Regions from separate parts of the Homo sapiens genome. Here all the other regions are linked to region 2. Evidence: fine-mapped expression QTL. A gene starts in region 2. Each other region holds a variant in brackets. All regions are shown on one strand. Distances are between the middles of the regions. Region 1 has its middle 220 kb from the start of NNT-AS1. Region 2 holds the start of NNT (nicotinamide nucleotide transhydrogenase). Region 3 overlaps NIM1K (NIM1 serine/threonine protein kinase). Region 4 overlaps TMEM267 (transmembrane protein 267). Region 5 overlaps NNT-AS1 (NNT antisense RNA 1).

The links. PIP is the estimated chance that this variant, and not a neighbour inherited with it, causes the effect.
Region 1: its variant is the best candidate, but not a certain one, in a credible set for the expression of NNT in whole blood (TOPMed, PIP 0.61).
Region 3: its variant is the best candidate, but not a certain one, in a credible set for the expression of NNT in NK cells (Gilchrist 2021, PIP 0.84).
Region 4: its variant is the best candidate, but not a certain one, in a credible set for the expression of NNT in whole blood (TOPMed, PIP 0.85).
Region 5: its variant is the best candidate, but not a certain one, in a credible set for the expression of NNT in left ventricle (GTEx, PIP 0.61).

Annotation. Positions count from the first base shown.
Region 1 is chr5:43,820,598-43,826,898 of GRCh38, reverse strand. No RefSeq gene overlaps it. Among named protein-coding and RNA genes, the nearest start is that of NNT-AS1, 220 kb to the right of the region's middle. The variant G/A (reference allele first, on the strand shown) is at 3,114.
Region 2 is chr5:43,600,161-43,605,160 of GRCh38, reverse strand. NNT (nicotinamide nucleotide transhydrogenase) reads right to left here and starts at 1,981. Exons shown (of 22, transcript NM_182977.3): 1 at 1,867-1,981. NNT-AS1 (NNT antisense RNA 1) reads left to right here and starts at 1,931. Exons shown (of 3, transcript NR_073113.1): 1 at 1,931-2,383. RefSeq lists silencers at 1,721-1,940, 2,061-2,150, 2,414-2,633, a cis regulatory region at 3,872 and an enhancer at 3,788-3,957.
Region 3 is chr5:43,194,196-43,200,325 of GRCh38, reverse strand. All of the region lies in intron 1 of NIM1K (NIM1 serine/threonine protein kinase), which reads right to left. Among named protein-coding and RNA genes, the nearest start is that of NIM1K, 5.0 kb to the right of the region's middle. The variant G/AAG (reference allele first, on the strand shown) is at 3,384.
Region 4 is chr5:43,456,264-43,462,564 of GRCh38, reverse strand. All of the region lies in intron 1 of TMEM267 (transmembrane protein 267), which reads left to right. Among named protein-coding and RNA genes, the nearest start is that of TMEM267, 24 kb to the left of the region's middle. The variant C/A (reference allele first, on the strand shown) is at 3,357.
Region 5 is chr5:43,576,139-43,582,439 of GRCh38, reverse strand. All of the region lies in intron 2 of NNT-AS1 (NNT antisense RNA 1), which reads left to right. Among named protein-coding and RNA genes, the nearest start is that of PAIP1, 22 kb to the right of the region's middle. RefSeq lists an enhancer at 1,202-1,948. The variant C/T (reference allele first, on the strand shown) is at 3,600.

The DNA.
Region 1 (6,301 bases), 220 kb before region 2:
TTGCTTGAACCCAAGAGGTGGAGGTTGCAGGGAGCCAAGATCACACCACTGCATTCCAGCCTAGTGACAGAGCAAGACTCTGTCAAGAAAGAAAGAGAGAAAGAAAGGAAGGAAAGGAAGGGAAGGGAAGGGAAAAGAAAGAAAGAAGGAAAGAAAGAAAGAAAGAAAAAGAAAGAAAGAAAGAAAGAAAGAAAGAAAGAAAGAAAGAAAGAAAGAAAGAAAGAAAGAAAGAAAGAAAGAAAAGAAAGAAAAGTAAAGAGAGAAAGAAAGAAAGAAAGAAAGAAAGAAAGAAAGAAAGAGAGAAAGAAAGAAAGAAAGAAAAGTAAAGAAAGGAAGAAAGAAAAGCTCAGAACTGGATGGAATCTCAGCTAAATTCTACCACACTTATAAAGAAGAATTAATACCAATCCTCATTAAACTATTCCAAAAAATTGAAGAAGAGGGAACTTTCCATAACTTACTGTATAAGAATAGTGTTACTCTAATATGAAAACCAGAAAAGGACACAGCAAAAAATATAACTATAGGTCAATATCCCTGATGAACATACACATAAAAACCCTCAAGAAAATACTAGCAAACCAATCTAACAGCACATTACCAAAATAGTATACTATTACGAAGTAGGATTTACAGCAGGGATGCAAGTATGGTTCAACATACAAATCAATAAACATAATTTATCTCATCAATAGAATAAAGGACAAAAGCCGTATGATCACCTCGATATATACAGAAAAGGCCTCTGATAAAATTCAACATCCCATCACAATAAAAATTCTCAACACACTAGGAATAGAAAAAGCATACCCAAAATGATAAAGGTCATATATGGCAAACCCACAGCTAACATCATATTGAATGGGGAAGAACTGAAAGCTTTCCTCTGAGATCTGGAACAAGACAAGGATGTCTGCTTTCACCATTCCTACTCAACATATCACTACAAGTTCTAGCCAGAGCAATCAGGCAAGAGAAAGAAATAAAGGGCATCTAAATTAGAAAAGAGGAATTCAAATTGTCCTGTTTTGCTGACGATATGATCTTATCTAGAAAAATCTTAAGACTCCAACAAAAAAACTGCTAGATTTGATAAATAAGTTCATTAAAGTTGTAGGATACAAAATCAATAAAGAATAATCAGTAGTGCTTCTATACACCAATAATGAACTTATTGAGAAAGAAACTAAGAAAGCAATCCTATTTACAATAACTACAAAAAATAAAATACTTAGGAATAAATTTAACCAAGGAGATGAAAGATCTCTACAAGGAAATCTATGAAACACTAAGTAAAGAAACTTAGGAAGATACAAACAAATTGGAAGACATCCCATGTTCAGGAATTAGAAGAATATCATTAAAATGACCATAGTGCTGAAAGTAATCTACATGTTCAATGCCACCTCTATCAAAAATATAAATGTCATTTTTCACAGAATCAGAAAAAAAAAATTCATTCATATGGAACCAAAAAAGGGCCAGAATAGTCCCTCTCCCTCTCCCTCTCCCTCTCCCTCCCCCTCCCCCTCCCCCTACCCTTTGCACGGTCTCCCTCTGATGCCCAGCCGAGGCTGGACTGTACTGCTGCCATCTCGACTCACTGCAACCTCCCTGCCTGATTCTCTTGCCTCAGCCTGCCAAGTGCCTGGGATTGCAGGGGCACACCGCCACACCTGACTGGTTTTCTTTTTTTTGGTGGAGACAGGGTTTTGCTGTGCTGGCCAGGCTGGTCTCCAGCTCCTGACTGCAAGTGATCTGACAGCCTTGGCCTCCCGAGGTGCTGGGATTGCAGACGGAGTCTCGCTCACTCAGTGCTCAATGTTGCCCAGGCTGGAGTGCAGTGGTGTGATCTCGGCTCGCTACAACCTCCACCTCCCAGCCGCCTGCCTTGGCCTCCCAAAGTGCCGAGATTGCAGCCTCTGCCCGGCCGCCACCCCATCTAGGAAGTGAGGAGCGTCTCTGCCTGGCCGCTCATCGTCTGGGATGTGAGGAACCCCTCCGCCCGGCTGCCCAGTCTGGGAAGTGAGGAGTGCCTCTTCCCGGCCGTCATCCCATCTAGGAAGTGAGGAGCGTCTCTGCCCGGCCGCCCATCGTCTGGGATGTGGGGAGCACCTCTGGCCTGCCGCCCCATCTGAGATGTGAAGAGTGCCTCTGCCCGGCCGTGACCCTGTCTGGGAACTGAGGAGTGTCTCTGCCCTGCCACCACCCCGTCTGGGAGGTGAGGAGCGTCTCTGACCAGCCACCCCATCTGGGAAGTGAGGAGCCCCTCTGCCCAGCAGCCGCCCCATCTGGGAAATGAGGAGCATCTCTGCCCAGCAGCTGCCCCATCTGGGAGGTGGGGGGCAGCCCCCGCCCGGCCAGCCGCCCTGTCCGGGAAGTGGGGGGCAGCCCCCGCCCAGCCAGCCACCCCCTCTGGGAGGTGAGGGGTTGCCTCTGCCCGGCTGCCCCATCTGGGAAGTGAGGAGCCCCTCTGCCCGGCCGCCACCCCATCTGGGAGGTGTACCCAATAGCTCATTGAGAACATGATGACAATGGTGGTTTTGTCGAATAGAAAGGGGGGAAATGTGGGGAAAAGAAAGAGAGATTAGATTGTTACTGTGTCTGTGTAGAAAGAAGTAGACATAGGAGACTCCATTTTGTTCTGTACTAAGAAAAATTCTTCTGCCTTGGGATGCTGTTAATCTATAACCTTACCCCCAACCCCATGCTCTCTGAAACATGTGCTGTGTCCACTAAGGGTTAAATGGATTAAGGGCAGTGCAAGATGTGCTTTGTTAAACAGACGCTTGAAGGCAGCATACTCGTTAAGAGTCATCACCACTCCCTAATCTCAAGTACCCAGGGACACAAACACTGTGGAAGGCGGCAGGGCCCTCTGCCTAGGAAAACCAGAGACCTTTGTTCACATGTTTATCTGCTGAGCTTCCCTCCACTGTTGTCCTATGACCCTGCCAAATCCCCCTCTCCGAGAAACACCCAAGAACGATCAATAAATACTAAAAAAAAAAAAAAAAAAAAAAGAAAGAAAGAAAGAAAAAGAGCCAGAATAGCCAAAACCATTCTGAGCAAAAAGACCACAGCTGAAGGCATCATCTATCTCACTTCAAAAT[G/A]TATTAGAAAGCTATAATAACAGGATTGTTAAGGATATAAAAACAGACACATAGACCAGTGAAACGGAATAATGACACCAGAATTAAATTCACTTATTTATAGCCAACTGATTTTCAATAAAGGTGCCAAGAACATACACTGGGGAAAGGAAATTCTTCAATAAATAGTTTTGGGAAAATTTGAAATTCACGATATGCATAAGAATAGACTGAACACCTATGTCTCCCCATACACAAAAATCATCTGAAGATGGATTAAAGACTTAAATGTAAGACCTGAAACAATAAAACTGCTAGAAAAAAAAATAAAGAGAAAAAACAAAACATCAGTCTAGGCAAAGATTTCATGGCTAAGACCTCAAAAGCACAGACAACCACAACAAATAGGCAAATAGGATTATATTAAACTAAAAAGCTTCTGCACAGCAAAAGAAACTATCAACAGAGTGAAGATACAACTTACAGAATGAGAGAAAAATATTTGCAAACTATTCATCTGAAAAGGGATTAATATCCAGCATATACAAGAAATTCAAACAACTCCTCCATTTAAAAAGAAATCCCATTAAAAAGTGGGCTAATGATATGAATAGACATTTCTCAAAATAATACATACAAATGGCCAACAGGTATATGAAAAAAATGTTCCACATCACTAATCATCAGAGAAATGCAAATCGAAACCACAATGAGATATTATCCTACCCCAGTTAGAATAGCACTATTAAAAATACTAAAAATAACAGATGCTGGTGAGGTTGTGGAGAAGGAACTCTTATACACTGTTGTGGGGAAGTGAATTAGCACAACCACAATGAAAAACAGTATGGAGGTTCCTCAAAAACCTAAAAATGAAACTACCATATGATTCATTCATCCCACTACTGGGTATATATCCAAAGAAAAAGAAATTATTACGTCAAAGAGACATCTGCATTCCCATGTTTATTGCTGCACTGTTCACAGTAGCCAAGATGTGGAATCAATCTAGGTGTCCAACAACAGATGAATGGACTATTTAGGGGCTTGGAATCATAGGCGGACATGCCCCTAACTTTGCAAGATAGGCAATTTAGTACCATGGAAAGAAAATCAGATGTGGACTCAGGAAACTAAAATTCTTGTCTTTTCTGCCAAAAACTAGCTATACAACTTTAAAGTAAGTTACTTAATTAGTTTTCATACGGGTAAAATGTAGCTAATGATATTCTCTCTCAGTAAGATTATTTGTATTATTTAAATTTTATAAATTTTCATTATCATTGATACATAATACCTTATAATTTGTAAAAAAAATTAATGGATAAAGAAAATGTGGTATACATACATAATGGAATACTATTCAGCCATAAAAAGAATGAAATCATGTCTTTTGTAGCAATATGGATGGATCTGGAGGTGATTATGTTAAGTAAGATAACCCAGGCACAGAAAGGCAGATACTGCAAGTTCTCACTCACATGTGAGAGCTTAAAAAGTTGATCTCATAGTGATAGAGAATAGAATGACAGATACCACAGGCTGAGAAAGGTATGTGGGTGAGAGTCAGAGAGATAAAGAGAGGTTGATTAATGGGCAGAAACGTACAGTTAGATAGAAGAAGCAAGTCCCAATATTCAATAGCAGAGTAGGGTGACTATGGTGAGCAACATTGTGTTATATATTTCAAAGTGGCTAGAAGAGAGAACTTGAAATGTCACCAACATGTAGAATACCCCAATATCCTGACTTGATCATTACACATTCTATTCATGTAGCAAATACTCATACATACCCCATAAATATGTAAAATATTTTGTATCAGTAACAAAAATGATAAGCCCCAGCAACAATAACAAAACATTTTGAATATCTTTTTTGTGTTATTTTGAAGATCCCTGAATTTCCTTTAAACTGCTATTTTGAATTTCTGGTCAGAGAACTCACATATCACCATCTCAGTAATGTCAGTCCCTGTTCCCTTGCTTTGTCCATTTGAGGAGGTTGTTGTCCCTGTTTGCTATTGTTTCTTGTAGATGTACATCTTTGTCTTGCATCGACGGACTCGTTGTTTATTCCAGTCTTCTATGTCTGGCTTGTTTTGGTTATGATAGAATATGTTTTCTTAGAGATTCTTTGTAATTTACCTATTGATTTTATTTCTTTTATTTTTCCCACTAGGTTGTTACCTCCTTTCAGCAGTAAATGATGCCTAAAGCCCAGGCTGACCTTGGCTCTGGTAAAGGAGTGGTGCCTGTCTTGAATGGGGGAGGTTCCAAAGGGGAAGGGTGGCTCAAGATTTGTGCCTAGGGGCCCTGTGAAATGAACCTTCTACTGTGTGGTGCTGCTAAACAGCCACTCTGATTTGGAATCTCCTTTGGTGGATTGACAGAGCAGAATTTCCAGGGCTGGAGGTGGTATTTCTGCCTTCCCCTTTTCCTCTGGCTATCCTCAGGGATATTTCTCCCTTCAAGTACTCGGAATGCTTCCTATAAGTTGAGGCAGGGACAGATATCCTGCCAGGGAACTCACGGTGGTGGGGATACTGGTTATCCACCTTGTTCTCACTTTTTCCAATATAGAAACAGTGAGTAGCAGAAAGGATTTTCTGCATGCTTGATGACAGGCAGATTGTGAGAAGGGGTGCCTGATTCTCTTACCATCTTCTCAGAGTATCTTCATGTCTGTGGTCCCAGGAACTGTCTCCTCCTCATATTTGAGTTCTGGGATATTGCTTGTGATAATCTCAGTGCTTTATGTTTGTTTCTGATTTTCCGTAAGGAGGAGTAAAGCCAGCTTGCTTCTACACTGCCATTTTGGAACCAGAAATCTAACAAAAGATTTTAAAAAGGAGAAAAAGAAAAAATGATGTATTTTTCTCCAGATCCATTTAATTCCTTGGATGATGCTTTAAACATAGATGTACAATTATAACAATAGCCAGTGCCAGCATTATCACATCTTCTTGAAATCTGGCTAAATAGATTCATCATTAGCTTTCTCCTCACTTGCCAACGATTAGAAGAACAATCTTATGGCAACTTGAACTGATAAATAAATAAATGGCCAGATGTCATTTTGAATGACAGTCAAAAGATGTTCTGGAGCTGGCTCATACCAGTTCACAAGAGCCAATAGTTAAATCTTCAGGAATTTTGTCATCTGGCTAACATCATGTTGGTAGCTTGAATCAGGCATAGCGGGAGTGT
Region 2 (5,000 bases):
GATATTAAAATCCTTGAGGGAAAGCACCCAACCTAAAGAGGGAGGATACCACAGATATTTAAGAGAGTCAGCTCTGGATCTGCGGATTGGAAGCCCCACTCTGCAACTTATTGGCTGTGTGACCTTGGGAAGTCACTTAACTTCCCTGTACTTAATTTCCTCATCTTTAAAATGGGGAATAATAGCACCCACCCAGGGTGGTGGCTCACGCCTATAATGCCATCTCTTTGGGAGGCTAGTGGGGAGGACTGCTTGAGGCCAAGAATTCAAGACTAGCCTGGCCAACACAGTGAGACCCCCATTGCTAAAAAAAAAAAATTAATTAGCAGGGCATGGTGGTGCAAGCCTGAAGTCCCAGCTACTTGGGAGTCTGAGGTGGGAGAATCACTTGAGCCCAGGAGTTCCAGGCTGCAGTAAGCCGTGATTGTGCCACTGTACTCCAGCTTGGACAACAGAGCGAGACTTGAAAAAATAAAATAACAGCACCTACCTCTCAGGGTTGTTGCCAGGACTGAGAATATCCTTATCAGCTGTTATATTCACTTTGGTATTACTCTCCCCCAGTGCTTTGCACAACACAGAGGAAGTCAGTATTTTTGACTGAATGAATAGGGCTAGGTGACCTTAAGCCTAAGTACCTATTGAGCACATTTTCCAAGGATTTTCGGAAAATTTCCTTTGAAAAGGAAATGTTTGTGTAGCCTTGTGGAAAACTGATTCTATCACCAAGGTAAGCAGCCTAAGCGCACCTGCTGGAAAGAAGGCAATCCTAAACTGTCTGTTAATAAAAAGTCAAGGTTTACAAATAAAAGGGGTGCAATGAAGAAAAGGGGCACACTTTAAATAAGAAGAGTAGGTAGGCACCTAAGCCCCACGCGCTTCTCCGAATAAGTCTGTCCTACAAGACTCCTGACAAACAGACCACCTAAGGACTGGCCGGCGCCACAGGGTGAATAAAGGACACCGGCAACCATAAACAAGTCACGCTTTTAAAAGCGAGACATACCAGCAAGGACACAATACCCTACTGAGCCAGCTTCGGCTGGCAGGCGCCGTGACCTCACCCAAAGCCACTGGTGTCACGGCTACTGCCACCGGTGCCGTCCCTTGCTCGGCAACTAACTGCCACCCGCTGGCATCTGCACGAGACCGCTATTTATAACCTCCCTAGGAAGCCGATTGGCCACGGCTGCAAATAGTCATTCCGGCTGTTGAGTTTGAACTAGCTCTGCCCAGGTCGCCCTCTCCGCTGTCTCTTCCTCCTCACCAGCCTAGGCCCCAGAAACTTGTACCCACCACCGCCAGACCGCCCCAACTCACACTCACAATTTGTGCTCGCAATCTCCTATGTCCCCAGCCGGACACCCTCTCCGAACTCCCTCAAGGGTCAAGCATACCTCAAGGGCATCCAGCTGCCACCTCTCTGGATGAACCGCCCATCGAAAGTCCTCTATGACCTCCCTCTCCACCACCCCCGATCTTGAGGGCCGAAATGACCCCGTACGACTCTCGCTGTCCCCCAAAGCTGCAAATATCTGCACCTGCACAGCTGCCGCCTCATTCCCTGCCCTCTTCGGGGACCCAGTTCCCAAATCCACCAGCCCACTCCCTTCGACATCGCCCCAGCAGGAGACGAGAAAGGGACACCAAGAGGCACGGTGCTTCTTCCCCACCTAAGCCTGCGGCCTGCGGACACCCCAATGCACCCTGCGCCCGGGACACCGCCGACCCCGCCCCGCTTTGCTCTTTGACAGGTCTCTCTCCCGGCGAGGGCCGTGGTCTTCAGGAAAGGCCCGAGCCCCTTTCCCAGCTGCGCCCTAGGCGCGCGCCCCGGCTGCCCGCACCCGCCAGTGCCGTCGCGCTCACCTGGGCCGGGAGGCTGACAGCCTTGGGCTGTGCCCTGAGGGCCGCGAGAGGACGTCGCGCTGGCAGACCCGGGCTTGGGCCCCGCGGCGCTGCGCCTCCAACCCGGAAGAACAGCCCCAACTCCGCGGCGGCGGGCGGCCACGTGACTGCAGCTCCGCTCCCACCTCGGCCCGCGCCCCTTCCCCGCCCCAGCTTTCTTCCCGCCAGGCCCCCTCCACCCGATCGCCGCGCGCTCTCCGAACCAAAAGGCGACCTCACGAAATGCCCCTTTGAGCTCAAAGGCTAGTTACCCCCAGGGGCCCTTCCACTCTCGGGGACAGGCGAAACCTCTTTGTCTCTGCCTCGGCCTGCGGCCCCCAGCCCAGCCTCCGCGCTTTCCCTCCGCCAGTCCTTGTCAATCAAACCTGGTGCCAAACGCGGCAGCTGAAGTTTTCAGGGACACATTTGCTTCTCCCCTTGAAGAACCAGTTACAAAGCGTGATGTCCTCTCTGGGGTCCCATCAGAACAAAGAAACAGGTAATATAACTCCACTCCGGGTACCTGCCTTTCCTCCAGCTCGCTAGGAAAAATCAGAACTTCTGTAACAGAGAGGACCCAAGGGAAAGGGGCAGGCGGAGAGGGGTTGGTGAAGGGCGGGAATGGGGGGCGTTGATTTTCCATTCTGGCAGGAGAGGTGGAGTTAAATTCCTCAGAAACGATGTCCAGGCTTGAAAAGTAACACACATCTGCGTGCTTGTCTTCCAACATCAGAGCCAGCCTAGAGGAAGCTGGCTAGTGTCACTGCTAGTACGAATATCCCCGAGGCTGGAAAGCATCTGGGTGGAGGTTGTGAGCTTTCCAGACCAGGCCTCGGCTGTTTTTCTAAAACTATTAACCGTAATGACCTAGTCGTTCTTTTCACACAGTTCTGTTACTTATTCTGCAGGTGTATTCTGACTAAAAGTGGGAGGAATAAAAAATAGAGTGTAAAATGGTTCACTTGCCCAAAACTTAATCATCATGAAGTGTCAGTAACGTCATTTATTTCTATTAATTGAAATTTTGATACAAGAAAAATAATTATGAATCTAAAAGGTATAAGCAGAACAGGTATTCCATAACTTTAAAAAGAAATGAGCCGCAGGGAAACCCTTAGTTTGAGAACTTGTCTTGTGATTAACCTACACAGAAGGTCATTCAACTAATGGATTCCCACTGCAGTCCAAACTCACAGACAGGAAATGACACAGCCCCATGTTTTAAAATAATAATGAGCCGTGGTAAGTGTGACCATAGGGACGGTTTCCAGATACTGAAGGTACAATGAAGTGAGATTAGTAATGATCCCACTTAGTAAGGATTTTAAACTAAGTTATTGATTTAAAACTTTTTGTAGGGGTCAGGAGTTGCTGCTTTGTCTTTTAGGGATTAATAATTCGTGGTTCCCAACTGGGGACAATTTAGTTCCGAGGGATATTTGGCAATGTCTAGAGACATTTTGGTTGTCACAATTGGAGAGGGGACCTATCTAATGGGTTGGGGCCAGGGATATTACTGAACACCTCACACTACACAGCCCCTCACGACGAAGCATTATCCAGCCCCAAATGTCAATAGTGCTGAGGCTGAAAAATCCTGGCTTAAATTAATGCTCAGTACATTATTTAATTTTGACTTGCTTATAAATTTATATCACATGAAAACAAACTCAAAGATAACATACTGTTTTTCACTTTTGAAAATCATGAATGTTAGGCATATGATAATTTTAATAACAAGCATATGATTATTTTATTCCGCTTACTTGTACAACATAATTTGGGTGCCATTTCTTCAGGAGAAAACATTTGTCATTTGGAATGCTCTGTTTCAGTCCTTAAGCTTCTACGTATAATTACAGCATATTATTCATAAACGGAGTCCCCAATGAAAATAGGATTAAGTTCCAAAAGTTTGCTTTTAAGTTAGTTGCTTCTAAGTCTTAGACACTGTCTTGAATAAAATTTTTGTAGAGATTTGATATTCCCTATTAAGTTTTAAGGGCCTTTCCCACTCTGACTTCTACTCTTTCCTCCCTGACTAATTTGACCTGCAAACTCTCATCTTAAAATAGTACCTCTCACATATGTGTAAGTTTTCATTACAGATTGTTCTATTATTGAATAATTTTTAAAATATTTTAAAATTAAAATAAACATCAAAATTTAAACCATTTGAAGTTTAGGAGTTTTTGTAGTCACAAATGCTTAAAAATAGTTTTTAATAATTAGAGTTCTAATCTATCAGAAGCAAAAAGGATGAAACATTTACAAGACTATAATATAACATTTGGATCTGCTTTAAAGCCTAAAAACCAGAGAGGTGCCCAGTAGCCAAAAATCAAAACATAGGCTGAACCTGAGAAGACATGTAATCAAAAACTGACCTCTAGTGATGGCTTGTTACCAAAACCCACCATCTAGGTAAAATCAGGCTACAGAAAAGGTAGCTTTAATGTCTTTTCATTGTGGTTATTATGTTACATGGTTATTGGCAATTTATTGTCTCAGCTTCCCTTTTATAAATAATTATTAGTAAAGTGAACAGCCCCAGAGAGATGGGATTCTTAGATTTCAGTGTGTCTAACAATGCAGACACTCGACAGGTTTTAAGGGAACCATCACTAACCTTAATCTTAGCCCTCTTCTCCCAGGCTGACCAATCAAGAGTGTTTGATTTTAGGAAATAAATGTTAACTGACTAAATGAGCTGATGCTAATCAACATTAACTGGAAGAAAAAAGAGAACTGATATTAAAGAGCCAGCACAAAGTTCAACAATTGGCATTTGTTTAAGCTACATAAGTAAAACCAGTTTGCATTTGAAATTTCTGTGAGCATTTAAAAAACTAGCTCATGGCATACTACTGTGAATATTGTCCTTTGCATATTCATGTAAGTACCAATTACAAAAACCTATGGGTTTTTAAATCAATATAAAAAATTGGCCGGGCGCGGTGGCTCATGCCTGTAATCCCAGCACTTTGTGGCCAAGGCAGGCGGATTGCCTGAGGTCAGGAGTTCGAGACCAGCCTGGCCAATAGGGTGAAACCCCATCTCTACTAAAAATACAAAAATTAGCTGGGCATGGTGGCAGGTGCCTGAAACCTGAAACC
Region 3 (6,130 bases), 410 kb after region 2:
CCATCTCAAAAAATAAAATAAAATAAAATAACTACTACTTAATGAGAGCCTACAATAAATAGCAAGTGCTCAATAAGAAGGGTGAACATAGAATCTGTCATTCAAACCAAGACACCTCTGAGAATGGGGTGCTATTAATAATTGCACTAGGACGGCCGGGTGCAGTGGCTCAGGCCTGTAATCCCAGCACTTTGGGAGGCCGAGGTGGGCAGATTACCTGAGGTCAGGAGTTCGAGACCAGCCTGGCCAAGAAACCCCGTCTCTGCTAAGAATACAAAATTAGCTGAGCATGCGTGATGGCACATGCCTGTAATCCCAGCTACTCAGGAGGCCGAAGCAGGAGAATCACTTGAACCCGGGAGGCAGAGGTTGCAGTGAGCCGAGATCACACCATTGCACTCCAGCCTGGGCAAGAACAAAACTCTGTCTCAAAAAATAATAATAACAATCACACTAGGACAACAGGTGTAAACCGGGGTTGCACTGACGAACTGGGACATATGGCCACCCTATCAATAAGTGATAGTGTGGCAGACATCACTGCAGCCTGGCTCACTCAACGTCACTACTAACTCTCTTCTCCTTTCTTTGCCTTCTGTTATAGTAGCTGGCGATCCCAGTTTCCCTTTCTCCCTCAAAGATAGGGATAGCTCTGAGACACAGTTTTGGCCAGTAAGACCTTAGTGTGGTGTTTCTGATAATTAGTGCTTTCCTGTTGAAAGAGGATAGTTGCAGCTGGAGCAGCTCCTTTCATTTCCTTCCCCTGTGGAACTTACAGAGGAGTAGTAGCCACCTAGAGACCATGAAGTGATAAATATGAGGGCAAAAGGATGGATAGCAGAACAGAAAGATAGGAATAAACTAGGTCTCTGATGGCAGCTAAAACAAAGCTCTTAATTGCTTATCTAGACCTCTTCTTCTGCAAGAAAAATAAACTTCTAGCTAAGCAGGAAGATTCTTTAGTTAACTGCAGGCCAAAGCGTACCTAACTTAGAAGACTAGTCATTATTTCATTTCAACTACTTTATACATATATATATATATTTTAGTAGAGATGGCATTTCATTTATAGATATATACATTTTTCATATATATATATATATATATATATATATATATATTTTTTTTTTTTTTTTGGAGACAGAGCTTCACTCTTGTTGCCCAGGCTGGAGTACAATGGCACAATCTCAGCTCACTGCAACCTCTGCCTCCCGGGTTCAAGCTATTCTCCTGCCTTAGCTTCCCAAGTAGCTGGAATTACAGGCACGTGCCACCATGCCCAGCTAATTTTGTATTTTTAGTAGAGATGGGGTTTTTCCATATTGGTCAGGCTGGTCTCGAACTCCTGACCTCAGGTGATCCACCCACCTTGGCCTCCTAAAGTGCTGGGATTACAGGTGTGAGCCACCGTGCTTGGCCCTTTATACATATTTTTAAAAATCTTTACAACAGCCCTAAAAGGTGCCTGCTATTATCCTCATTTTTCAGATGAAGAAACTAAACTTCAGAAGGACTTGGTAACTTGTCCAAAGCCATACAGGCAATTAACATCCAAGTTTAATTTCAAGCCCAAGACTGTCTGACCTCAGGGTCTGTGCTTCACACAAAACAGATGAGGCTTCTTCACCTTGTCTCATGAGCAGGAGCTGTGTGTGCCACAGGCAATCCCCTCTAAACAGATGCTGCTAGAAAGTAGGAGGATAAGAAATAGATCGTGTTCTGAAATGGTTAAAAGACAATATGAAGTGGGCTGGAAAGGTTTGGCTTTTCAGTAATCATTACTTAATAAAGTCCGCTCTTTTTTTTTTAAGTTCAAGTAATCATTGTTGAAAATAAAAGGCAATAAAAATAAAGACAGTTTTCACTATAGAAAGAAGGAAAGAAAGAAGGAAGGAAGGAAAGTAGGAAAGAAAGAAAGAGAGCGAGCTCGAGAGGGAGGGAGGGAGGAAGGGGGAGAGAGAGAGAGCAAGACAGAAAGAAAGAAAGACAGAAAGACAGAAAGGAAGGAAGGGAGGAAGGAAGTAAGGAAGGAAGGAAGAAAGGAGAGAAAGAGAGAAAGAAAGAAAGGAAAGAAAGAAAAGAAAGAAAGAAAGAAAGAAAGAAAGAAAGAAAGAAAGAGAAAGAAAGAAAGAAAGAAAGAAAGAAAGAAAGAAAGAAAGAAAGAAAGAAAGAAAGAAAGAAAGAAAGAAAGAAATCATATTGGCCAGGTGCGGGTGCAGAGCAAGACTCCTCCATCGGAAAAAAGAAAAGAAAAGAAATAGATTATGTTTTCCCCCTACTTCCTTGCCCTCACCCCTACTCTAAGCAATGTGAGGTTGCTACCCCTCTTACTCTACTATGGAATACTCCTTCAATATCAAGATGACGTGTTCAGTTCAACAAACATTATTTTTAAGCTCCGTCCTCCATGTTTAAGTGTACAAGTTACCCCCAGGAACAATGTAGATATAACTAAATCTACAGCTAGTGGGGCAAGGTAGATGCATAAACAGATCGTCTAAATATAATGGCCAAAGGCTAAACTAGAGATAGGTACAGACAGGGTGGGGCCCAAAAGAGAACATCTGGAAGGAGATAAGGCCTGAAGGAATTTCCAGGTGTGATTCAGCAAGTACTGAAAGATAGAGAAATGTAGGTCAGGGAAATGGTAAAATGGGAGAGGGGGTATGGAGTATGGATCATGGAAATTGAGGCAGTATAAAGGGTGGAAAAATCAGTACCTCTGTGTTCTGTAGGAGCTCAAGGGCTGGCGCTGTTGATTACATCTGAGGGAGTATTTGGCTACATTTCAAATTTCCAAAAAGTTTAAAAGGCTCTTTAAAAATCTTCATGATTAAAAATGACTAAGGTGTATTTTATTAGCCAAGAATAGAACTAATTTGGCCAGGCGTGGTGGCTCACGCCTGTAATCCCAGCACTTTGGGAGGCCAAGGCAGAAGGATGGCTTGAGGCCAGGAGTTCAAGACCAGCCTGGGCAACATAGAGAGGCCCGCCCCCCCTACCACCGACAACTCTACAAAAATAAAAAACTTAGCTGGACATGATGGTGCATGCCTGTAGTCCCAGCTACTCTGGAGTCTGAAATGAGAGGATCACTTGTGCCCAGAAGTTCTAGGCTGCAGTGAGCTATGATTGTACCACTGCACTGTAGTCTAGGTGAGTGAGATCCTGCCTCTAAATAAAACATAAAAATAAATAAGTCAATAGATTCTGTCCAAAATTGATAAATCAAGAACCAGTGGCCAGGCATGGTGGCTCATGCTTGTAATCCCAGCACTTTGGGAGGCCAAAGTGAGAGGATTGCTTGAGCCCAGGAGTTTGAGACCAGGCTGGGCAACATAGTGAAACCTTGTCTTTACCAAAAAAAAAAAAAAAAAAAAAAA[G/AAG]CTGGGCATGGGCATGGTAGCGTGCACCTATAGCCCCAGCTACTCAAGAGGTTGAGGGGGAAGGATTGCTTGAACTCAGGAATTTAAGGCTGCAGTGAGCCATGATCACACCACTGTACTCTACCCTGGGCAACAGTGTGAGAACCTGTCTCAAGAAAAAAAGAAAAAACAGCAACATAAGCTAATTATTTGGACATAGGGAGGTAAGTGATCAAACAGCCAAGAGTTCAAAATGATTGCCTCTGGAGACTGGGACTGTTGTTTTAGTTATAAGCTTTTATTTTTTATTTATTTATTTATTTATTTTTGAGACAGAGTCTCGCTCTGTCGCCCAGGCTGGAGTGCAGTGGCGCGATCTCGGCTCACTACAAGCTCCATCTCTCAGGCTCAAGCCATTCTCCTGCCTCAGCCTCCCGAGTAGCTGGGACTACAGGCGCCCACCACCACACCTGGCTAATTTTTTTTTTTTTGTATATTTAGTAGAGACAGGGTTTCACTGTGTTAGCCAGGATGGTCTCGATCTCCTGACCTCATGATCCACCCACCTCGGCCTCCCAAAGTGCTGGGATTACAGGCGTAAGCCACCGCGCCCAGCCAGTTATAAGCTTTTAATATACTCTCATAAAATTAGGTGAATGCATTGTGATGATAACAATTTGAACAATTTTTTAAAGTAAAAAGAAAAATTTCAGTGCAATTATGTAATCAAGTGTATCCATATATTATCCCAACTAGATAATTCCAACAAATAGAGACACAGAAAGCTTCTTGATGGCTTTAGGATTAGGGAGAAAAGATCTAATGAGCAGCTAGTTCAGGAGACCCGAAAAGACAGCTGCCTCAGCCCACACCACTTGGATGGGTGGCAGGGAGTCAGAATGAACTAAGATCTGCCGCTAAGGCCTCCCAAGTCACACGATTTTGCTAAATAGGGTACTGACTGCTTTCTGGAAAACCATCAGTGTTCTCTGTGGAAGATGAAGAGTGGAGTTCTTCTTAGTTTCCTATTCTGCAACTTCGTTTTCCTTCTGTGCAACCCTCTTTTCACTTGATGTTTTCGCTTTTACTTTCTTTCTATTAATCTGCTTTCTCCTTACAGTTTTTTCCCCTTAACAGTTTTATTTTGCTCTCTAATCTTAAATTCTTCCCGCTATCCATGCCCTGAATTTCTCTTAAGTCTTGGCTAATGCTCATATTCATAATGCTCATGTCAGACAATTTAGATTTTTGTCTCGATTTTCCAAGTGGTTAGCTGAAATCACTTTTTTTTTTTTTTTTTTTGGATTCAGAGTCTTTCTGTGTCTCCCAGGATGGAATGCAGTGGCATAATCACAGCTCACTGCAGCCTTGAACCTCCCAGGCTCAAGCAATCCTCCTCCCTCAGTCTCCCCAGTAGCTGGGACTACAGGCATGCACCACCACACCCAGCTAATTTTTAAAAAATTTTTATAGAGACAAGGTCTCACCATGTTGCCCAGGCTGGTCTCGAACTCCTGGGCTCAAGCAGTCCTTCTGCTTCAGCCTCCCAAAGTATTGGGATTACAGGCCTGAGCCACGGCACCGACCTATCACTTGGCTTTTGAACACAACTTGTCCATCTGTAAAACTGATTAATATTCCTCAGGATGCTGTATAATAATGGCTAAGCTAACCTTGAAGTTCTTGAGAGAAAGTAATTTAAGAACTATGATGTGGTTAATTCAAGTTGTAGACTATTATCTTCATAAGCAATTTGAATATTTTCTTCTTCTCCTGAAAATTAAAACTTCAATTCTAGAGACCTTTTTCTAGAATGACAATAGGAAATGACAAAATACAAAATGAAACAAATTTTATGAACAGTTTGTCCTTTCAACAAGTGAAAGAAAATCAACCAATGAATTAAAACTCTTTAATCCCTAGAGAAATACAGTGATCAGATTCAAAGAATGAAGTTGGATTTAATGTTATATTTTAATTTTTAAGTTTCTCAAAATGAAACTATATATGTGACAAAAACATTAACCTACTAAGACAAAAATCTTTGCTTTTGTTTTTTTAAAAATGTATGATAAGTCTGTCATGCACCTGTAGTCCCAGCTCCTCAGGAGGCTGAGGCAGGAAGATCCCTTGAGCCCAGGAGTTTGAGACATGCCTGGGCAACATGGCGAGACCCAGTCTCTAAAAACGAAAAGAAAATAAAACAAAACTGTAAGTCTGAGGGCTTCAAGCTGTCTAATCACATGCTATCAATGTTAGAATTTGAAGCTCAGAAATCGTGGATGTGTAATGAATTACGGTTCTTTAAAGAAACCAACATTTGCTGATAAAAGTATTTGAAATGGTACCACTGCTTGCCCCAAATTAAACCTTTTCAACTAAAAACCTAGGGTTAAACCAAGAATATAAAGGGCTCTATAACCTATCTGTAGTTATTACTGGGGAATTCAGATTTCATATAAACCTGTCTTTATTTTAAATGTAGTTAGAAAAAAAGCACACACCTCAAACCAAATATCCAATCCACATTTTTTCCTAACACAGAAGGAGGCTTCTCTGAAGGTTTTTCCAGGCTTACCATTTAACAGTGGTCCAGCTAAAAATAAACCCATGAGGGTTTACTAGGCAAATTCAATGGCACACCAAACACCAGTCCATGGGGAGTTGGATTCAGCTTTTTCCCCACTAGCCTCTCGCAGGAATCCCCCCCTACATTCTCCCATCTCCTAATTAGAAAGCTAATTAGGCTTCCAAATGTAAATGCTAAA
Region 4 (6,301 bases), 140 kb after region 2:
ATAGACTTCTGGATTCCTTTTCTGTGTTATCTTGAATTTCTTTGAATTTCCTCAACACAGCTATTTTAAATTCTCTGTCTGAAAAGTCACATATCTTCTTTTCCAAGATTGGTCTTTAGTGCCTTATTTAGTTCATTTGGTGAGGTCATGTTTTCCTGGATGGTGTTGATGCTAGTAGATGTTCTTCAGTGTCTGGGCATTGATGACTTAGGTATTTATTGTAGGCTTCATTGTCGGGGCTTATTTGTACCCGTCCTTCTTGGGAAGGTTTTCCAGATATTTGAAAGGACTTTGGTGTTATAATCTAAACTATATCTGCTTTAGAGGGCACTCCAAGCCCAGTAATGCTGTGGTTCTTGCAGACTCATAGAGGTACCGCCTTGATGGTCATGGACAAGATATGGGAGAATTCTCTGGATTACCAGGCTAGGACTCTTGTTCTCTTCCTTTACTTTCCCTCAAACAGTCTGTTTCTGTGTTCTGAGCCACCTAAAGCTAGGGTGAAGTAACCCAAGCACCCCTGTGGCCACAACTACCATGACTGTGCTGGGTCAGACCTGAACCCAGCATGGCACTTGGTCTCACACAATGCCTGCTATATTCACTTCCTGGCTACTGCCTATGTTTGCTGTAGGCCCTGGGACTCTACAATCAGCCAGTAGCAAAGCCAGCCAGGCCTATGTCCTTCCTTTCAGGGCAGTGAGGTCCCCCAGGCCCTGGGTGGGTCTAGAGGTACCATCTGGGAGTCAGGGACTAGAGTCAAAAACCTTAGACGTCTACCTGATGTTCTATTGCACTGCAGCTGAGCTGGCACTCAAACCACAAGATGCAGTCCTTCCCACTTTTCCCTCCCCTTTTCAAAGACAGAGGAGCCTGACTCCATAGCCACCACCACCCCAGGTCACAAAGAGTACTGCCAGAACACTGCTAATGCCCCTTAAGGCACAAGGTCTCTTAAGTCAGTTTGTGGTGGATGCTGCCTGGCCTGAGACCCACCCTTTAGGGCAGTGGGCTCCTCTGTGGCCCAGGGCAGGTCCAGAAATGCCATCCAAGAGTCATATCCTGGAATCAGGGACCCCAAGAGCTCACTTGGTGCTCTATCCTCCTATGCCTGTGCTGATACCTAAGGTGAAAGGCAAAGTCCCCTTTAGTTTTCTCTCTGCTTTTGTCAAACAGAGGGAGTTTTTTCCCATAGCCACCACAGCTGATAATGTGCTGAGTCTCACCTGAAGCCAGCAAGTCTCAGAGGCTCACGCAAGGCCCTTGATGTAGTACCTGTGTATCACTGCTGGTTGTTCAGGTCCCAAGGGCTCTTCAGTTAGCAGGTGATGAATGCTGCCAGTTTTTGAGTCCTGTCCTTCAAGGCAGGGGTTTCCCTTCTGGCTCTGAGTATGTCTAGAAATGACATCTGGGAACTAGGGCCTGGAATGGGGCCCTCATGACTCTGACCAGTGTCCTGTCTTGCTGTGGTTGAGCTGTTATTCTCCTCAAGCAAAAAGAAGGGGTCTCTTTTGGAGCCTCAAGATGTGCAGCATGGGGTTAGGTGAGGGTGATGCCAGCATACCTTTGGCTGCCCCAACTTTGGTCTCAGTATGTCATGTGCCCACGCAGTCCACTGTCTCTGGGCCTAGTTCAGCTCTAGGACTCACCTAAGGGTTGCAGTCCTTAAGGCCTACACTGCCTTTCAAGTTTACCTGGAGACAGAGGGCACTGTAGCCCTCAGTGGCGAGGTTTGCAGAAACTCAAATTCGGACCAATGGAATGGGCATTTCCCCTCTGGCTTGGGCTAATTTAAATGCTCCCTCCGTGGCTGGACATCAACTGAGTTTAGTCTGGTTTTCCTTTCTGCTCTAACAGGACAGCACTGAGTTCAGTGCCTCAAAACTGCTGTGTTCTCCCTCCCTCAGTGCCCAGAGATGCTCTCTGCCCCACTCTGCCACTTCTGGGGTGTAGGGGAGGGGTGGCCTTAGTGATTCAGGACTGTTTTTTGCTTTTCTGTGTTTTGTTTTTTTTTTAATCCCTTCTGTGCCTCTTTCAGTGGTGTGAAGTTAAAACCAGGTACTATGAGTCTCACCTGATTTTTGGTTCTTATGAAGGTATTTTTTTTCTGTGTAGATAGTTGTTAACTTGTGTTTGGGGATGATTGGTGGAGGCTTCTATTCTGCTATTTTGCTCTGCCTCCCTAATTCAAATATGTGGTTAACTTTTATGGGGGTTCCGTGAACATTTGAAAAGAATGTGTACTGTTTATAGCAGGAGTCCCCACCCCCAGGCCATGGACCAGTACAGGTTCATGGCCCATTAGGATCCAGGCCGCAAAGCAGGAGGTGAACGGCAGGCTAGCAAGTGAAGCTTCATCTGTGTTTACAGCCACTCTCCATCACTGACATTACTGCCTGAGCTCCACCTCCTTTCAGATCAGTGGCAGCGTTAGCTTCTCATTGGAGAGTGAACCTATTGTGAACTGCACATGCGAGTTCTAGGTCACGTGCTTCTTATGAGAATCTAATGCCTGATGATCTGTCACTGTCTCCCACCATCCTAAGATGGAACTCTCTAGATGCAGGAAAACAAGCTAAGGGCTCCCACTGATTCTACATTATGTTGAGTTGTGTAATTATTTAATTATATATTACAATGTAATAATAATAGAAATAAAGTACACAATAAATGTAATGCACTTGAATCATCGCAAAACCATCCCCCTCCACAGTCCATGGAAAAATTGTCTTCCACAAAACCAGTCCCTGGTGCCAAAAAGGACTGGGACCACTGCTTCATAGCATATGAAGTTGTATACCTGAGTATGAAATAAAATTTATAAATTATATTATTCAGATTATGCCTTTTATTGACCACTTAATTTTTTGCTGCTGTTGTTTGACATGTAAGCATCCTCTTACCCCATAGAACTTTACTGTGATGTGAATATTTTATCCTTTTCAGTTCTAATTAATCATTTTTACCTTGAATTCTGTGTTTGCAGTTAATATTACCATTGCTACTTAATTTTGTTTGTATTTCTTAGACATATATTTTCTCATCTCTTTATTTTCTATATTGTGAAGACTTTTTGTTTGAGGTGTTTTGTTTTGAACAATAATTTAGTGATGTTTTCTTTTGCCCCAATCTGATTATGTTTGTCTCTTTATAGAGAAATTTAACACATTCACATTTGTTGTGGTATTTGTATTTTATTTGGTCCCTATTGCTTTTTGCAGAGTGGGGGTGAGCTGGAGGGAAGTAAGGTTTTCTTTTTTTTCTTTTCTGTCTTGCTGTATTGATCAAATTTTCTTTATTTGTCTCCCTTCCTGCTAGAGATTGAGAAGTTCTACTGCTCAGTTTCCCCTACCCCC[C/A]AAAATCATACATGGGTGTATAATTTCTAAGGCAAAACTTTTAAAATTCACAGTTGCCACATAGGTGCCATAATTTAACTATGCTTAGAATGCTACAGTCTATGATCTTTTTCTCTCAGAGTTCTGTAAATGTTACCTCACAGTATTCTGACATTTAGGGTTGATGATAATCACATTCTCTTTCTTTGGAAGATAATTTTTTTTTTTTGACATAGAAACTCTAAAGGTTTTCTCTTTATTTTTGGAAATTTTTTTTCAATGCCCAACTCTTTGTCTTATATTTTCCCCTTAAGCTTTGGAAAAATTATTTGCAAATGTTCTCATTTACTAATTTTGATGTTTGAAAGATTCACGCCACTGTGCATTCCTTCAGTGCATAGTAGACTTTGCATTGAGTTTTTATTTGGGTAATCAACTTTTTCATTTCCATAGTTTCTTGTTTTCATATTTCTCCTTTTTTACAAAAGCCTGCTGTTTTATAATCAATGAAGTGTACCTTCCTAACTTTTTAACATCTTTGTTGGAGTATAATTGACATGTAATTAACTGTATATGTTTAAAATATACAGTTTGATACGTTTTGACATATGTATGAAACTGTGAACCATGGAACTATCACCACAGTCAAGATAATGAACATATGCGTCCCTTACCAAAGTTTCTTTATTCTCCTTTTTAATCATTCCTGCCTCTACTGTCTTCAGGAAACCATGGATCTGCTTTCTGTCACTATAAATTAGTTTGTATTTTGTAGACTTTTAAATAAGTAGAATTATACTATGCACTCTTTTTAAAAACATATTTCTAGGCCAGGTTCAGTGGCTCACGCCTGTAATCCCAGCACTTTGGGAGGCTGAGGTGGGAAGATTGCTTGAGGCCAGGAGCTGCAGACCAGCCTGGGCAACATGGTGAAATTCCATCTCTACAAAAAAATTTAAAAATTAGCCAGGCATGGTGGCCTGTGACTGTGATTCCAGCTACTCAGGAGGCTGAGGCAGGGGGATCTCATGAGCCCAGGACATAGAGGCTGCAGTGAGCCATATTCACACCACTGCACTCCAGCCTGGACAACAGAGCAAGACCCTGTCTCAAAAATTAAGGAAAGAAAGAATTTTTTAAATTAAATAAATAGAAATGGAAACATATAGCCAGGCATGATGGCTCATGCCTGTAGTCCCAGCTACTCAGGAGGTGAGGTGGGAGGATCACCTGAGACTAGGAAGTCAAGGTTGCAGTGAGCCAAGATCAAGCCACTGCACTCCAGTGTGGGCAACACAGTGAGACCCTGTCCTCAAAATAAATAAATTTAATAAAAACATTTCTAAATGAAAATTTCAAACATACAGAAAAATAGAGAAAAATATAATGAACTACAGTACATCTATTACTTAAATTTATAATATTTGTTGGCGGTTCATTTATTTAATTTTTTAAAATAAATTGACTTTATTTTTAAGTTTTTGTAAGTTTTTCTAATTAATAGACTTTATAAACTGATATGGTTTGGATTTGTGTCCTCACCCAAATCTCATGTCAAATTGTAATCCCCAGTGTTGGAGGAGGAGCCTGGTGGGAGGTGACTGGTTCATGGGGGCAGATATCCCCCTAGGTGTTCTCATGATAGTGAGTTCGTTCTCACGAGATCTGGCTGTTTAAAGTGTGTAGCACCTTCCACTTTAGTCTTCTACTCTGGCCATGTAAAACGTGACTCCTTCCTCTTTACCTTCCACCATGATTGTAAGTTTCCTGAGGTTTCCTCAGCCATGCTTCCTGTACAGCCTGCAGAACTGTAAGCCAATTAAGCTTCTTTTCATTGTAAATTACCCAGTTTCAGGTAGTTCCATGCAATAACAGACTAATACATAAACCTAAATAGTAGTTTTAGGTTTACAGAAAAATTGAGCCAATATTATAGAGAATTCTTATAGATGCCCTTTGCCCTGCATACATTTTCCCCATTATTAATATTTGCAATAGTGTGGTATATTTGATACAAGTAGGGAACCAATATTGATATGTTATTTTTGACTAAAGTCCATACTTTATATTAGGGTTCATCCTTTATGTCGCACAGTTCTATGGGTTTTAACTGTGTAATTTTTGTTTGTTTGACTTCTTTCACTTACTATAATCATTTCAAGATTCATTCATGTTTTTATGTGTATCACATGTTTGTTCCTTTTTATTCCACCTTTTGTTTATTCACATGTTTGTGGACATTTGAGTTGTTTCCAACTTGGAACAAATTCAGATAAAGCTGCTATGAACATTCATGTGTAAGCCTTTGTGTACACATAAGCTTTTGGGAAAATACCTAGAAGTGGAATGACTGGGTTATATGGTAAGAGTACGTTTAACTTTCTGAGAAATTGGAAAACTGTTTTTCCAAAATAGTCATACTGTTTTTTATTCCGACCAGCAGCGTATGAGTTCTGGTTGCTCCACATCTTTGTCAACATCTGGGATTGTCAGTCTTTAATTTTAGCCATTTAACAGGTGTGTGATATCTAATTTTTAAAATTTGCATTTCCCTAATAATTAATGGTGATGAACATATTTCTTATACTTATTGGCTATCTGAATATCATCAATGGTAGGTACCCATTTTCACATCTTTTGTCCATTTTTGTATTGGTTTGTTTTCCTATTACTCTGTTTTGAGAGTTCTTTATATATTCTGGATGTAAGTCCTTTATCAGATATAAGATTTAAAAATTGTTTTTTCTTTCTCTTAACATTGTCTTTCAAAGATCAGAAGCTTTTAATTTTGATAAGTTCAACTTACCAATTTTTTAATGGATCAAGCTTTTGGTATTTTATCTAATAACTCTTTGCGTGACCCAAGGACACAAAAATACTTTATGTTTTTTTCCAGAAATTTTATCTTTTTATGTTTTATTTACATTTAGGTTTGTGATTCATTTTGAGATAATTTTTGTATATGG
Region 5 (6,301 bases), 23 kb after region 2:
AGATTAAAAGAAGAAATGACATGAGGAATAATTACTCTGTGGTTCTCCTTTGTGGGTATGTTAATAAATTTCTGTGCCATTTCTCCTATTAAGCTGCCTTTTATCAGTTGATTTTTCAGTGGACCTTCAGAGGGCAAAGGGGAAGTTTTTGCTTGGCTCCTATAGTTTTGGTGCTGTGAGCAGTATACCAAAACTATTCTGCTCTTAAGCCAGAGTGAAGGGAACCCAGGACCTGACTAGCTGCCAGAAGAACAAGAATTTCTTACCGGCCAAGCTTCTGGCCTCTCTTTCTGTGGAATCTGATCAAGTTGACAGTTAAAATCCCTGTTTGTCTCTTTTCTCTGCAAAATCTTGATTAATGGGAGACAAGGATTTGTGTGAGTAGTCTTGGGTGTTGTGACTCTGGTGTAATTTTTGGTTTAAGTATTCATATTATTTGATCCTTTTTGTCCCAGAAATCAACTTTTTCTTTCTTTGTCTTTCCGTGTTGTTATGTCATAAAGAAGGGTACCAAGCATGAGGTAGAACATAGGCCTAAAGCCTTTATAAGCCCATTTTTCCAGCCAGCCTTGCGGACTTGTCAGAATTGTAGTTCTGACCAGAACAGCATATAAACTTTGTTGTGGGCCCCCAAAATAAAAACCATATGAGATTCCCCTTTCATCTTGTTTTATATCCTTGAAAGTGTGGCTGGTGACAAAGTGGGAGCACTCTCTCTTGGTCTCCACTATCTATGAGGCATGATTTTCAGGTCATATAAGGTGACCAGTCTGAAAATGGCTGGGACGTGAGACATGTAAGATTTTAAGCAGCACACTTTTTGTTATGAATGTGTCAAGCTCTCAGGGGAGTTTGTCTTAAAAGTCCCATCACTGTGGGCTTTTGTCATCTCAACTCTTGTTGCTTGGTTCTAAACAATTGCCTTCTTTGTGTTTATAGACAGACCAAATTAAAATAAAGACATATAATAGTATCATGGCTAACCTTAGAAATTCTCTTGACAAAATTAAACAGCAAAAATCTGACCTAACACAAAGTGAAAATCATAACTGAAGGGGTGGGTTGCCCCTCCACACCTGTGGGTGTTTCTCGTTAGGTGGAACGAGAGACTTGGAAAAGAAAAAGACACAGAGACGAAGTATAGAGAAAGAAAATAAGGGGACCCAGGAAACCAGCGTTCAGCATATGGAGGATCCCGCCAGCCTCTGAGTTCTCTTAGTATTTATTCATCATTTTTGGGTGTTTCTCAGAGAGGGGGATGTGGCAGGGTCATAGGATAATAGTGGAGAGAAGGTCAGCAGATAAACACGTGAACAAAGGTCTCTGCATCATAGACAAGGTAACGAATTAAGTGCTGTGCTTTAGATATGCATACACATAAACATCTCAATGCCTTACAAAGCAGTATTGTTGCCCGCATGTCCCACCTCCAGCCCTAAGGCAGTTTTCCCCCATCTCAGTAGATGGAACATACAATCGGGTTTTATACCGAGACATTCCATTGCCCAGGGACGGGCAGGAGACAGATGGCTTCCTCTTGTCTCAACTGCAAAGAGGCATGCCTTCCTCTTATACTAATCCTCCTCAGCACAGACCCTTTACGGGTGTTGGGCTGGGGGATGGTCAGGTCTTTCCCTTCCCAGGAGGCCATATTTCAGACTATCACATGGGGAGAAACCTTGGACAATACCTGGCTTTCCTAGGCAGAGGTCCCTGGGTACTTGAGATTAGGGAGTGGTGAAGACTCTTAATGAGCATGCTGCCTTCAAGCATCTGTTTAACAAAGCACATCTTGCACCGCCCTTAATCCATTTAACCGTAAGTTGACACATCACATGTTTCAGAGAGCACGGGGTTGGGGGTAAGGTTATAGATTAACAGCATCTCAAGGCAAAAGAATTTGTCTTAGTACAGAACAAAATGGAGTCTCCTATGTCTACTTCTTTCTACACAGACACAGTAACAATCTGATCTCTCTTTCTTTTCCCCACAATAACATATGTGCTCAAACTGTCTGTAGGATTCACAATAAAGCTGCTCCACCTTTCAGTCCAGTAATTAAAATTCTGTGCTTTCACTACTGTGGTCTGGGTTTGATTACCAGTCAGGGAACCAGTACCTTTTGGTCTGATATTTGTGTGACTTTTGGCTTTTTGGGGTACCCATTTGTTGTTGATCATTTTCTGTTTCATGGACAGCTTTTGATTTTCTGCCTCCTTCCATCTGTGGGGGCGTATGAGGCTTTTGGGCCTTTGTGTGTAGACAGTCAGCTGAGAAGTTGAGACACTAGAGAATATGGCTGGACAGATGTGGGTTGAATCCCGTTTGCGGCTACTGAAACTTTATTTTCTTTGAACTGTCTTTCAGTGCATCTGCATCTTGTGAGGACTGCTTTTTACCTCTTTGGAGACACCTCATGTGTCCTTAGTTAAATTGTTGAGTCACTTGCAAAGTTACCTTTCATAAAAAAGTTTAAAAGTCAGGAATATTAGCTATTTGTCCTAGCCAAAATCCAATAATAAAAGATCTGAAAATATATTTTTAAAAAGCTCTATGATCAGAAGTCAGCTTAATTAGAAGCTAATATTCAACATATATGTTGAATATATCGTTATATACATAAATATATAATATACATATATTTATATTATATTATATTATAACTATATTAAATATATAGGTATATATTTAATATAGTTATATATTTATATAAATATATACCTATATATTTATAGAAATATATTTAATTTATATTTAATTTATATTATATTATATTATAAATATATTGTTATATATTTATATATTATATTTTATTTATATATTATATAAATGTATAATATTATGTTATATATTATATATAACATATAATATATAAATATTATAAAATATATAATAGATAAAATATTTTTATATTATATATTATAATATATAAATGTATTATTACAATATATAAATATATGTGTATATAAATATGCAAAAATATATTTATATAAATATATGTATATAAATATGCAAAAATATATTTATATAAATATATATATTTAAAGGCCTTTCTGCCTTTTTTCTTTGGGATCCTATTTCTGAGGATTTTTCTAGTTTACTGAAACTTCTTTTAATTGTATATTTGGTCTTTTTGTATGCTTCATTTCTTGTGGTATGATTTTTGTTAAGAAAAGCGTAAAACTTCATTGGCTTTTTGTTCCTCCTTTCTCTTTGCTGTCTTGAATATCACATAAAAGGATCTGTGGGAACATCTAAAGACCCTGTAAGAAACATAGAAAACCCTCTCCCTCCCCCTCCCCCTCCCCCTCCCCCTCTCCCGAGCCGAAGCTGGACTGTACTGCTGCCATCTCGGCTCACTGCAACCTCCCTGCCTGATTCTCCTGCCTCAGCCTGCCCAGTGCCTGCAATTGCAGGCGCGCGACGCCACGCCTCACTGGTTTTCGTATTTTTTTGGTGGAGACGGGGTTTCGCTGTGTTGGCCGGGCTGGTCTCCAGCTCCTAGCCACGAGTGATCCGCCAGCCTCGGCCTCCCGGGGTGCCGGGATTGCAGACGGAGTCTGGTTCACTCAGTGCTCAATGGTGCCCAGGCTGGAGTG[C/T]AGTGGCGTGATCTCGGCTCGCTACAACCTCCACCTCCCAGCCGCCTGCCTTGGCCTCCCAAAGTGCCGAGATTGCAGCCTCTGCCCGGCCGCCACCCCGTCTGGGAAGTGAGGAGCGTCTCTGCCTGGCCGCCCATCGCCTGGGACGTGAGGAGCCCCTCTGCCTGGCTGCCCAGTCTGGAAAGTGAGGAGCATCTCTGCCCGGCCGCCATCCCATCTAGGAAGTGACGAGCGCCTCTTCCCGGTCGCCATCCCATCTAGGAAGTGAGGAGCGTCTCTGCCCGGCCGCCCATTGTCTGAGATGTGGGGAGAGCCTCTGCCCCGCCGCCCCGCCTGGGATGTGAGGAGCGCCTCTACCCGGCCGCGACCCTGTCTGGGAGGTGAGGAGCGTCTCTGCCCGGCCGCCCCGTCTGAGAAGTGAGGAGACCCTCCGCCTGGCAACCGCCCGTCTGAGAAGTGAGGAGCCCCTCCGCCCGGCAGTCACCCCGTCTGGGAAGTGAGGAGCGTCTCCGCCCAGCAGCCACCCCGTCCGGGAGGGAGGTGGGGGTCAGCCCCCGCCAGGCCAGCTGCCCCGTCCGGGAGGGAGGTGGGGGGGTCAGCCCCCCGCCCGGCCAGCCGCCCCGTCCGGGAGGTGAGGGGCGCCTCTGCCCAGCCGCCCCTACTGGGAAGTGAGGAGCCCCTCTGCCCGGCCACCACCCCGTCTGGGAGGTGTACCCAACAGCTCATTGAGAACGGGCCATGATGACAATGGCGGTTTTGTGGAATAGAAAGGGGGGAAAGGTGAGGAAAAGATTGAGAAATCGGATGGTTGCTGTGTCTGCGTAGAAAGAGGTAGACATGGGAGACTTTTCATTTTGTTCTGTACTAAGAAAAATTCTTATCCTGTTGATCTGTGACCTTACCCCCAACCCTGTGCTCTCTGAATCATGTGCTGTGTCCACTCAGGGTTAAATGGATTAAGGGCGGTGCAAGATGTGCTTTGTTAAACAGATGCTTGAAGGCAGCATGCTCGTTAAGAGTCATCACCACTCCCTAATCTCAAGTACCCAGGGACACAAACACTGCGGAAGGCCGCAGGGTCCTCTGCCTAGGAAAACCAGAGACCTTTGTTCACTTGTTTATCTGCTGACCTTCCCTCCACTATTGTCCTATGACCCTGCCAAATCCCCCTCTGCGAGAAACACCCAAGAATAATCAATAAAAATAAATAAATAAATAAATAAATAAAATAATAAATAAATAAAAAGAAACATAGAAAAGCTACCACTCACCCACTTTATGGGAATGATCTTCTGTCTTCCTGTGGAGTCTGAAGAGTCATGGGCAAGTTCTTATCAGGTCTAAAGCTCCACTCTCCTTTGCATTGCATTACCTGGTCTCTTTGGCTTTGGGGGTTCAAGGAATTACTTTGACCTATTAGAGAATTTGACCTTGTGTATGCAATGGCTGGTGGGTCACTGGTGAGGGCTGCAGTTTTGGAGGTAGCTGACAGTGGTTGCAATTAATAGTTATTACTGTATGTAGGCTACTTGTTGCTTTGCTCTATTCTATAAAAAAGACATAGTTGAATACATGGAGACTGTGGGAATACTCACCACCAAGGAATAACTATCCCATGGTGGATGGGCTGATCACAGAATGGGCTGATTGATATGGGTCTCCCACCCACTAATACCTGACACACAATCTGTCACTCTCACTAATGCCTCACACACCCCCACCAGCCTCAGGGTGACATCTTTGTAGTGAGGTGTACTCTGGAAACACTGTGCAGCCCAGTCCTTTGGTGTTTCCCTCTTTTGTGGGGGACCCAGGGTTCAGTGTAAAAGTAGAATCCTTGATTTTTAAAAATCTAGATGCTCTGTCTTCCAGCTGTGCCTACTTTTTACATATACAAATATTAGGCCCTAAAAACTGCAAATGCTTTGTTTGCCCTGTTCCTTAATGGGCTCTGCCCAGAACTCAGTGGTCTAAGTAGAAAACAGATACTAAATTAGAAGCCACCTATATGACTAGATTGGTCTCCAAAATATGACTTTCTGACATTTAGGTGTTTGTTTTTGTTTTTGGTAGGGTTTTCTGTATTTTTTGTTTCGTTTTGTTTTTGTTTTTGTTTTTTGAGACAGTGTATTAGGCCATTCTTGAGTTACTATAAAGAAATTCCTGAGACTGGGTAATTTATAAGAGGTTTAGTTGGTTCACAGTGCTGCAGGCTGTACAAGAGGCATAGTGCCAGCATTTGCTTCTGGAGAGTCCTTAGGAAGCTTACAATCATGGTGAAAGGAAAAGGGGGAGGAGGCACATCTCACAGCAAAAGCAGGAATAAGAGAAAGAGAGTATGGGGGGAGGTGCCACATACTTTAAAATGACCAGATCTTGCAAAAACTCACTTGGCACCAAGGGGACAGCCCTAGCCATTCATGAGGGACCTGCCCCCATGATCCAAATACCTCCCACCAGTTATTACATTTCAACATGAGATTTGGGTGGGGACAAATATCCAAACCATATCAGACTGGGTCTTAATCTGTTGTCCAGGCTGGAATGCAGTCACACAATCACAGCTCACTGCAGCCTCAACTTCCTGGGCTCAAGCAATGTCCTCATCCTCCTACCTCAGCCTCTCAAGTAGCTGCTATTACAGGCACACGCCACCATGCCTGGCTAATTTTGTTGCTTTTGTAGAGACAAAGTTATATACC